3 separate regions of the Homo sapiens genome follow, and all the other regions are linked to region 3. The links come from fine-mapping of genetic effects on plasma protein levels. A gene starts in region 3. Each other region holds a variant in brackets. All regions are shown on one strand. Distances are between the middles of the regions.

Evidence for each region. A credible set is the group of variants that fine-mapping cannot tell apart. PIP is the chance, under the fine-mapping model, that this variant and not a neighbour inherited with it causes the effect. Protein levels are from antibody-based Olink assays in UK Biobank. Linkage for the fine-mapping came from a reference panel and not from the study's own genotypes, which makes the PIPs less certain.
Region 1: its variant is the best candidate, but not a certain one, in a credible set for the plasma level of the CD28 protein (UK Biobank, PIP 0.58).
Region 2: its variant is the best candidate, but not a certain one, in a credible set for the plasma level of the CD28 protein (UK Biobank, PIP 0.79).

Annotation. Positions count from the first base shown.
Region 1 is chr2:203,662,572-203,665,421 of GRCh38, forward strand. No RefSeq gene overlaps it. Among named protein-coding and RNA genes, the nearest start is that of CD28, 43 kb to the right of the region's middle. RefSeq lists an enhancer at 2,791-2,850. The variant G/A (reference allele first, on the strand shown) is at 1,534.
Region 2 is chr2:202,806,697-202,809,196 of GRCh38, forward strand. All of the region lies in intron 9 of ICA1L (islet cell autoantigen 1 like), which reads right to left. Among named protein-coding and RNA genes, the nearest start is that of ICA1L, 64 kb to the right of the region's middle. The variant A/C (reference allele first, on the strand shown) is at 1,195.
Region 3 is chr2:203,705,080-203,707,887 of GRCh38, forward strand. CD28 (CD28 molecule) reads left to right here and starts at 1,560. Exons shown (of 4, transcript NM_006139.4): 1 at 1,560-1,669. The coding sequence starts at 1,618. RefSeq lists an enhancer at 1,440-1,589.

The DNA of each region.
Region 1 (2,850 bases), 42 kb before region 3:
AGCAGGCATCTTAATGGTGTGTCATTTATGTGTCAAAAAGAAAAATGGTGTCACTCAAATTTGTCCCTCTTATTCCTATTTTCTATAAGAGTTGATACTGAAACTAAGTCAGGAGCAGGGGGCTTCCCATTATTTTCTGAAGGTTCCAAGGCCTGGGCTCTGTTTCCTCTATCTCTTTTTGGCCCTCTGAATCCTGCAGGCAACTCAGACCACTAAGCCCTTTCTCTCCATTCCTGTGTACAGGGGGGCAAGACCTTAATTACAAACCACACATTCATATATTCTCATAGAGTATGGTTGCTAATAATCTAAATCCTAGTGGTTTATTTCACCCTGGAAGTTCTAATGGCTTTGGGGAGTGGATTCTTGGTATTTTGATTTTTTTTTGGTATAACTGTTTATGTATATGTGTTCACACATATCTATTTGAGTGACCATATGGTTCCTTAAGTACTTAGTGATTGTCATCTTCAGATAAAGCCCCAGCACTTTAACATGCCTGGAATCCTCTTTCCCTTATTCTTTGTCTGGTTGACACTTCCTCTCTTTATGGGTTCAGCTCAGCATTAATCATTTACAGCAAATGTCTGAGGCCCCAGAATGTATACAGGGCTCTCATCTCTCCTCCTGAATCACTTAGCATATTATAATAAAATTATTCACTGATTCATTGGTTCAGCAAATATTTATTGAGCACCTACACTTATTAACCTAGCACTATAAGCTCCAACAGGTCAGGCTTCTCTGCTAAAAAATAGACCTCCATAAATATTTGTTCAACTAAAATAGATATATATTATTTTTAGTTTTAGGGGAAAGGCTTAATTGGTTGCGATGAATGTAATTGCTGTTAGAGAAGCAGTGTGATGTGAAAGAGAGAGAAAAAAAGACCTTACTGGAGTTACAATCAGAATAACTTGTTATAGGTGCTGGCTAAGAGCCTACCTTTCACAGTCAAAATACCTAGATTGAAATCCTGGCTCTTTTGTTTGCTGGCTTTGTGGCATCCAGCAAATTATCCACTCTCCTTGTGTCTCATACGTAAGATGGAGGTCATGACAATACCTAATCTACAAGGTTATTGAGAGAGTTATATGAGGAAGAGAGTGTGTTGTAAATTTTGCAGTGACATATTTATAAAATCAGGTTTTTTTTTTCTTTGAGACGGAGTCTCGCTCTATTGCCCAGGCTGGAATGCAGTGGCGTGATCTCTGCTCATTGCAACCTCTACCTCCTGGGTTCAAGCGATTCTCCTGCCTCAGCCTCCCGAGTAGCTGGGACTACAGGCGTGTGCCACCACACTCAGCTAATTTTCATATTTTTAGTAGAGACGGGGTTTCACCATGTTGACCAGGCTGGTCTTGAGCTCCTGACCTCAGGTCACCTGCCCCCTTCAGCCTCCCCAAGTGCTGGGATTACAGCGTGAGCCACTGTGCTCTGCCTATTTGTTTAGGTTTTTAAGTTTCTCAGTTTGATCCTTGATCCTGCTCCTCAAACTTTAATGTATATACAAATCACCTGAGGATCTGGTTC[G/A]GCTGCAGTTTTTGATTTAGTAGGTCTGAGGTGGGGCCTGAGATTCTGCATTTCTAATGAGCTCCCAGGAAATGCTAATGCTGTGCTCCACAGGCCACTATTTGGTCTGGCCTAGAGTCATAGTTTTCAAATCGTACTGTGCATCAGCTTTTCCTGGAGGGCTTGTTTAAACATGATTGCTGGGCCTCTCACCTGAAGTTTCTGCTTCAGCAGGTGGAGGATGAGGCTGAGAATTTGCATTTTTTTCTTTTTCCTTTTCTTCTTTAATTCTTCCAAAAAAAAAAACCGTAATACATGTGCAGAACGTGCAGGTTTGTTACAAAGGTATACTGTGCCATGGTGGTTTGCTGCACCTGTTGACCTGTCCTCGAAGTTCCCTCCCCTCATCCCCCATCCCCCAGCAGGCCCTGGTGTGTGTTGTTTCCCTCTCTGTGTCCATGTGTTCTCAATGTTCAGCTCCCACTTATGAGTGAGAACATGCAGTGTTGGTTTTGTTTTGTTTTTTTTAGACAGAGTCTCGGTCTGTCACCCAGGCTGGAGTGCAGTGGTATGATCTCAGCTCACTGCAATCTCTGCCTCCCAGGTTCAAGTGATGCTTCTGTCTCAGCCTCCCAAGTAGCTGGGACTACAGACGCCTGCCACTACACCCAGCTAATTTTTGCATTTTTAGTAGAGATGGGGTTTCGCCATGTTGGCCAGGCTGGTCTCGGACTCCTGACCTCAAGTGATCTGCCTGCCTCTGCCTCCCAAAGTGCTGGGATTACAGGCATGAGCCACCAACCCAGCCTCATGGTTTTCTGTTCCTGTGTTAGTTTGCCAAGGATGATGGCTTCCAGCTTCATCCATGTCCCTGCAAAGGACATGATCTCCTTCCTTTTTATGGCCGCACAGCTGAGAATTTGCATTTCTAACAAGCTCTTATGTGATGCTAATGCTGCTGATCTAGAAACCTCATCCTTTGAGAACCACTGATCTAGAAAGATTGTTTTACTCGGAGAGTAAATTACTTTGCTATGCTTCAGAAAACAGGAATTGGGACTTAAGACTTGGATTCTGCCTCTTAGATTATAGTTCTGGTGCCTAAGCACATTTAATACTATTTTTTAACAATGATGGGCACTGATGTGTTTCTATGGGCTTTGCATTGTCGAGGTCTGCCACAACTGTAGTAACAATTTAACCCTATCCTCAGACCCCTATAAAGATTACCCTGAGAACTAATGAGATTTTATTTATTTATTATTTATTTATTTTTGAGACAGAGTCTTGCTCCGTCGGCCAGGCTGGAGTGCAGTGGCACAATCTTGGCTCACTGCA
Region 2 (2,500 bases), 900 kb before region 3:
ATTTATTGGTCACCTACTATGTGCTATGGAGTTTCTCAATATTACCTCTATCCCTAATGTCCCTGGTAAGATAGGCATAAATAACTCCTATTTCAGATGAGACAACTGAGAGAGCCATAAATGATGTTTTAAAAAGCCAGGATCCAAACTCAGATTTTTCTGTTTTCAAAGCCTGTACTCTTCCTTACCACAGTGGTTCAAATATATGTCGACTGTATATATAACATGTATTTATTTTTTAAAGATAACACAAATTTCAGTATGAGGGAAAACTCAAAACTTAATCATGCAACCCTATAAACTGGACTTTTGCGTTTAAAAGCACCTATCTTTGGGGAGAGGAGGCAGGGCAAGCTGGCTTAATAGAACTCTCCAGCCATCATTTCCCCCCTGTACCCCACAGGAACAACAAATTGAACAATTATCCATACAAGAAAGAACCTTCATAACAACCAAACATCGGGTGAGAGATCACAGTACCTGGTTTTAACTACGTATCACTGAAAGAGGCACTGAAGAAGATAGGAAAGACAGTCTTGAATTGCCAACACCACCATTCCACCATCTCTTGGCAGTGGCCACATGGTGTGGAGAGAGAATCTGTACTTGTGGGAGGGAGAGTGCAGTGATTGTGGGACTTTGCATTAGAACTCAGTGCTGCCTGCCACAGCTGAAAGCAACATGGGGCAGAATTCAGCCAGTACTCACAGAGGGGGCAGTTAGACCAGCCCCAGCCAGAGGGGAACCACCCATCCCACTGGTCAGAATCTGAGTTCCAGCAAGCCCCACCATGGCAAGCTAAAGCACTCTGGGGTTCCAAATAAACTTGAAAGGCAGTCTAGGCCACAAGTACTGCAATTCCTGGGCAAGCCCTGGTGTTGTGCTGGGCTTGGAGCCAGTGGAGTTAGGGTACATGTGACCTAGTGAGATACCAGCCAGCCAGCCAGCCAAGGAAGTGCTTACATCACCCCTCCTCCAATCCCAGGCAGTGCAGCTTACAGCTCCAGGAGAAACTCCTTTCTGCTTGAGGAGAGGAGAAAGGAGAGTAAAGGGGACTTTGTCTTGCAACTTGGATACCAGCTCAGCCACAGTAGGATAGGGGACAAGGTAGAGTCCCAAGGCCCTCATTCCAAGCCCTAGCTCCCAGATCACATTTTTAGACATACCCAGGGCCAGAAGGGAATGCACTGCCCT[A/C]AAGGGAAGGACCCAGTCCTGGAAGGATTTATCATCTGATGACTAAGAGACCCTGGGCCCTGAATAAACATCAGCAGCACCCAGGCAGTACTCACCATGGGACTTGGGTAAGACCCAGGGCTGTGCCGGCTTCAGGTGTGACCCAGTGCATTCTAAGCTATGGTGCCCACAGGGAGAGACTTCCTCTGCCTGAGGTAAGGAGAGGAAAGAGTAAAGGAACTTTTTATTGCAGCTTGGGCACCAGCTTGGCCACAGTGGGGTAGAGAACCAAGAAGTCACCTGGGGTAGTCAGTTCTAGCCCTTGGCTTCTGGATGGCATTTCTGGACCTGCCCTGGGCTAAAGGGGAGCCCACTACCTTGAAGGGAGAGTCCTAAAAATGGCAGCATTCACCACAAGCTGACTGAAGAGCCTTTGGGCCTTGGGTGAGTATCAGCGATAGCCAGGCAGTACCTGCTGCAGGGAGAGACTCCTTCCGCATGAGGAAAAAAGAGGGAAGAGTGGGAAGGATTTTGTCTTACAGCTTGGGTGCCAGCTCAGCTGGTGTAGAATCGAGAACCAAGTAGATTCCTAAGGTTCCTGACTCTAGGCCCTGGCTCCCAGATGGCATTCTGGGATCTGCTCTAGGCTGGGGAGTAGCTTGCCACCCTGAAGAGAACGACACAAGCCAGGCTGGATTTGTTTCCTGCTGATGGTAGAGCCCTTGGGCCTTGAGTGAATATTGGCAGTAGCCAGGCAGTGGTAACAGGAGGCCCAGGCTGAGACCCAGTATTTTGCTGGCTTTGGAGAAACTCCATGTGTTTGGGGGGAAGTAAGGGAAAAGAACAAGAGTCTCTGCCTGGGTAATACAGGGAATTCTCCCAGATCTTACCCAAGACCACCACGGCAGTATCTCTACAATTGTGCAAGAGCCACAGCATTACTGGGCTTGGGGTGCCCCTGCCAATGCAGATACAGCTACAATGACCAAAGATTTAGATGACAACAACTCAATGTTCTTTGAATACTTGGAAAACTTTCCCAAGAAGGACAGGTACAAACAAGCCCAGACTACAAAGACTATAATAAATACGTAACTCTTCAATGCCCAGACATTAACAAACATCCACAAGCATCAAGACCATACAGGAAAGCATGACCTCACCAAACAAACTAAATAGTGTACTAGTGACCAATCCTGAAGTGACAGAGATATGTGACCTTTCAGAGAGAGAATTCAAAATAGCTGTTTTGAGGAAGCTCAGCGAAATTCAAGATAACACAGAGAAGGAATTCAGAATCCTATCAGGTAAACTTAACAAAGAGGTT
Region 3 (2,808 bases):
AAAAAGCAATACAAGTTATCTTTTAAAACAACCCACATACACAAAACCCCCAACTAGAGTAATTGCACAAAGCTTAGATTATCAAAAAGAAGAAAAAAATTACTGGAAAAGTTTTGAAGAAGTCATTGAGTACAAGATACTGACGTAGGTGCCGGAAGAAGAGAGCAGTTGGCCGTGCTGGTGGAATAACCCTCTCTGCAAAGGGCCTGGGAGTTGAAGAAGGGTGCAGTCGGGTGGTGGTTATGAATCTCAGAAATCCTGCCACGGAGCCTCCTTTTGTGCCCTATTACTTAACCTTGAGGGACATAGAGAGCATGAGACACCAAGGGGCTTTTGGTTGCCTTACTGTCCCACTAAGAACATAGAATGTTGTTTTGACTTTCCCTTTGCTTAGGGAACCTCCCCCAGATACTCAGCTGGCTGGCTGCTTGCACGTAGAATGGGTTTTGCAAAGTTCCTAGAAGTGAGTTGGAGGAGGCTTGACATAAATCAAGCACTGTGTGCTAAATGCTCCAGAGGGCTACCTTATGTCCTACACAAATGTTACATTTCTAATATTTGTAACTCCTTTAAACGTTTATGCAGATGTTTCCCAATTCCTCAGTAGAATTCTTACCATTATCTTTTTGACACAACCTGTCCCCATCCTATGAAAATCTCTCCTCTGCTAGAGACTTTATTCTTTCTTTCTCTCTCTCCCCCTTCCTTCCTTCCCTCCCTCCCTCTTTCTTTCTTTCCATCTTTCTTTCTTTCTTTCTTTCTTTCTTTCTTTCTTTCTTTCTTTCTTTCTTTCTTTCTCTTTCTTTCTTTCTTTTCTTTCTTTCTTTCTTTCTCTTTCTCTCTCTTTCTTTCTTCCTTTCTTTTTTCTCTCTCCCCTTCCTTCCTTCTTTCCTTCTTTTCTTTTCTTTTCTTTTCTTTTCTTTCTCTCTTTCTTTCTGTCTTTCTTTTCTCATTCTGTTGCCCTGGCTGGAGTGCAGTGGCATGATCTCGGCTCATAGCAGCCTCCACCTCCTGGGTTCAAGCGATTCTCCTGCCTTAGCCTCCCTAGTAGCTGGGATTACAGGTACCCACCATGATGCCTGGCTAATTTTTTGTATTTTCAATGGAGACGGGGTTTCACCATGTTGGCCAGGCTCGTCTTGACCTCCTGGCCTCAAATGATCCACCCACTTTGGCCTCCCAAATTGCTGGCATTACAGGCGTGAGCCACTGCACCCGGCCTGTTCCTTCTTAAGAACACTTTGTCTCCCCTTTAATCTCTGCTGGATTTCAAGCACCCCTTTTACACAACTCTTGATATCCATCAATAAAGAATAATTCCCATAAGCCCATCATGTAGTGACCGACTATTTTTCAGTGACAAAAAAAAAGTCTTTAAAAATAGAAGTAAAAGTCTAAAGTCATCAAAACAACGTTATATCCTGTGTGAAATGCTGCAGTCAGGATGCCTTGTGGTTTGAGTGCCTTGATCATGTGCCCTAAGGGGATGGTGGCGGTGGTGGTGGCCGTGGATGACGGAGACTCTCAGGCCTTGGCAGGTGCGTCTTTCAGTTCCCCTCACACTTCGGGTTCCTCGGGGAGGAGGGGCTGGAACCCTAGCCCATCGTCAGGACAAAGATGCTCAGGCTGCTCTTGGCTCTCAACTTATTCCCTTCAATTCAAGTAACAGGTAAACAATGTTAATGTCTTTCTTTCTGTAAATATTTTTTGAGGTCTTCCAATTGGCTTAGTTTATTTTAAATTTCTAACAATGTGTGAAATTTGAACATTTGAAGTGTAGTTTTGCTGTAATAGGGCAATGTGTTATTTTGAAAATCATTGATTCTCAGACTACAATATAGTATCTTAACAAAAGTCCCTTGGAAATAAATTTTCTAAGCTATTAGTTTCTCTAGCTATTAGTTGATAGTGTCCCAAGAATTTATTATTATTATTATTATTTTAAATTGAGATGGGGTTTCACTATGTTGCCCAGGCTGGTCTCAAACTTCTGAGCTCAAGCAATCCACCTGCCTCTGCCTCCCAAAGTGCTAGGGTTACAGGCATGAGCTACCATGCCCGGCCAATAATTTTTAATTTATGTATCGTTTCTTTCTTTCTTTCTTTTTTTTTTTAATTTAAGAAAGCTGCTGTAAGTAGATTGGCTCTGGAAGCTCTGAATTTAGGTTGCCTATGTTCCTAACACAGGTCCAATTCTCACTAGGTAAGCTTAGGCTTAGCTATTATTTAAACTCTCCAAACCTCAGTTTCCTTAACTGTAAAGTGGGAATAATAATAAACCTCACCTCAAGGTCATTGTGAGGTAAAATGAAATAATCCATGCGAAGGGCTTAGCTCAGTCAGGCTTCAAGATAAATGTGAACTGTAATTACTCTATCTACCTGAATTGAATGAGTTCCAACATGAATTCTGGAGTCACCACAGAAGCTGCTACAACACCAATATTAATAAATTAGTTTTCTTTTACAATCGGCCAAAATGTATTTTCTTAGATTAAAATTCTTTAAGTTCCCAATGACGATGATGAGGAGGATAATACATCTAGCACTTTGAGCAGCACACAGTTCTCGTAACTAGAAGGTAGGTATTACAGTTAACTTCATTTCAGATGAAGAGACTGAGGGGTAGGCACATTAAGGGATTTGCCCAAGGATGTACAGGTGGCAGCTATAGGAGGCAGGGTCTGAACCACCTTAGTCTGACTCCAGTGCCGGTGTTGTTGATTATTATGCTATTCCATCTAACATGGTGTGATTTGTAATTTCATGGACTCAGGTAAATCCAGGGTTAAATTAACTTCGGAAAATC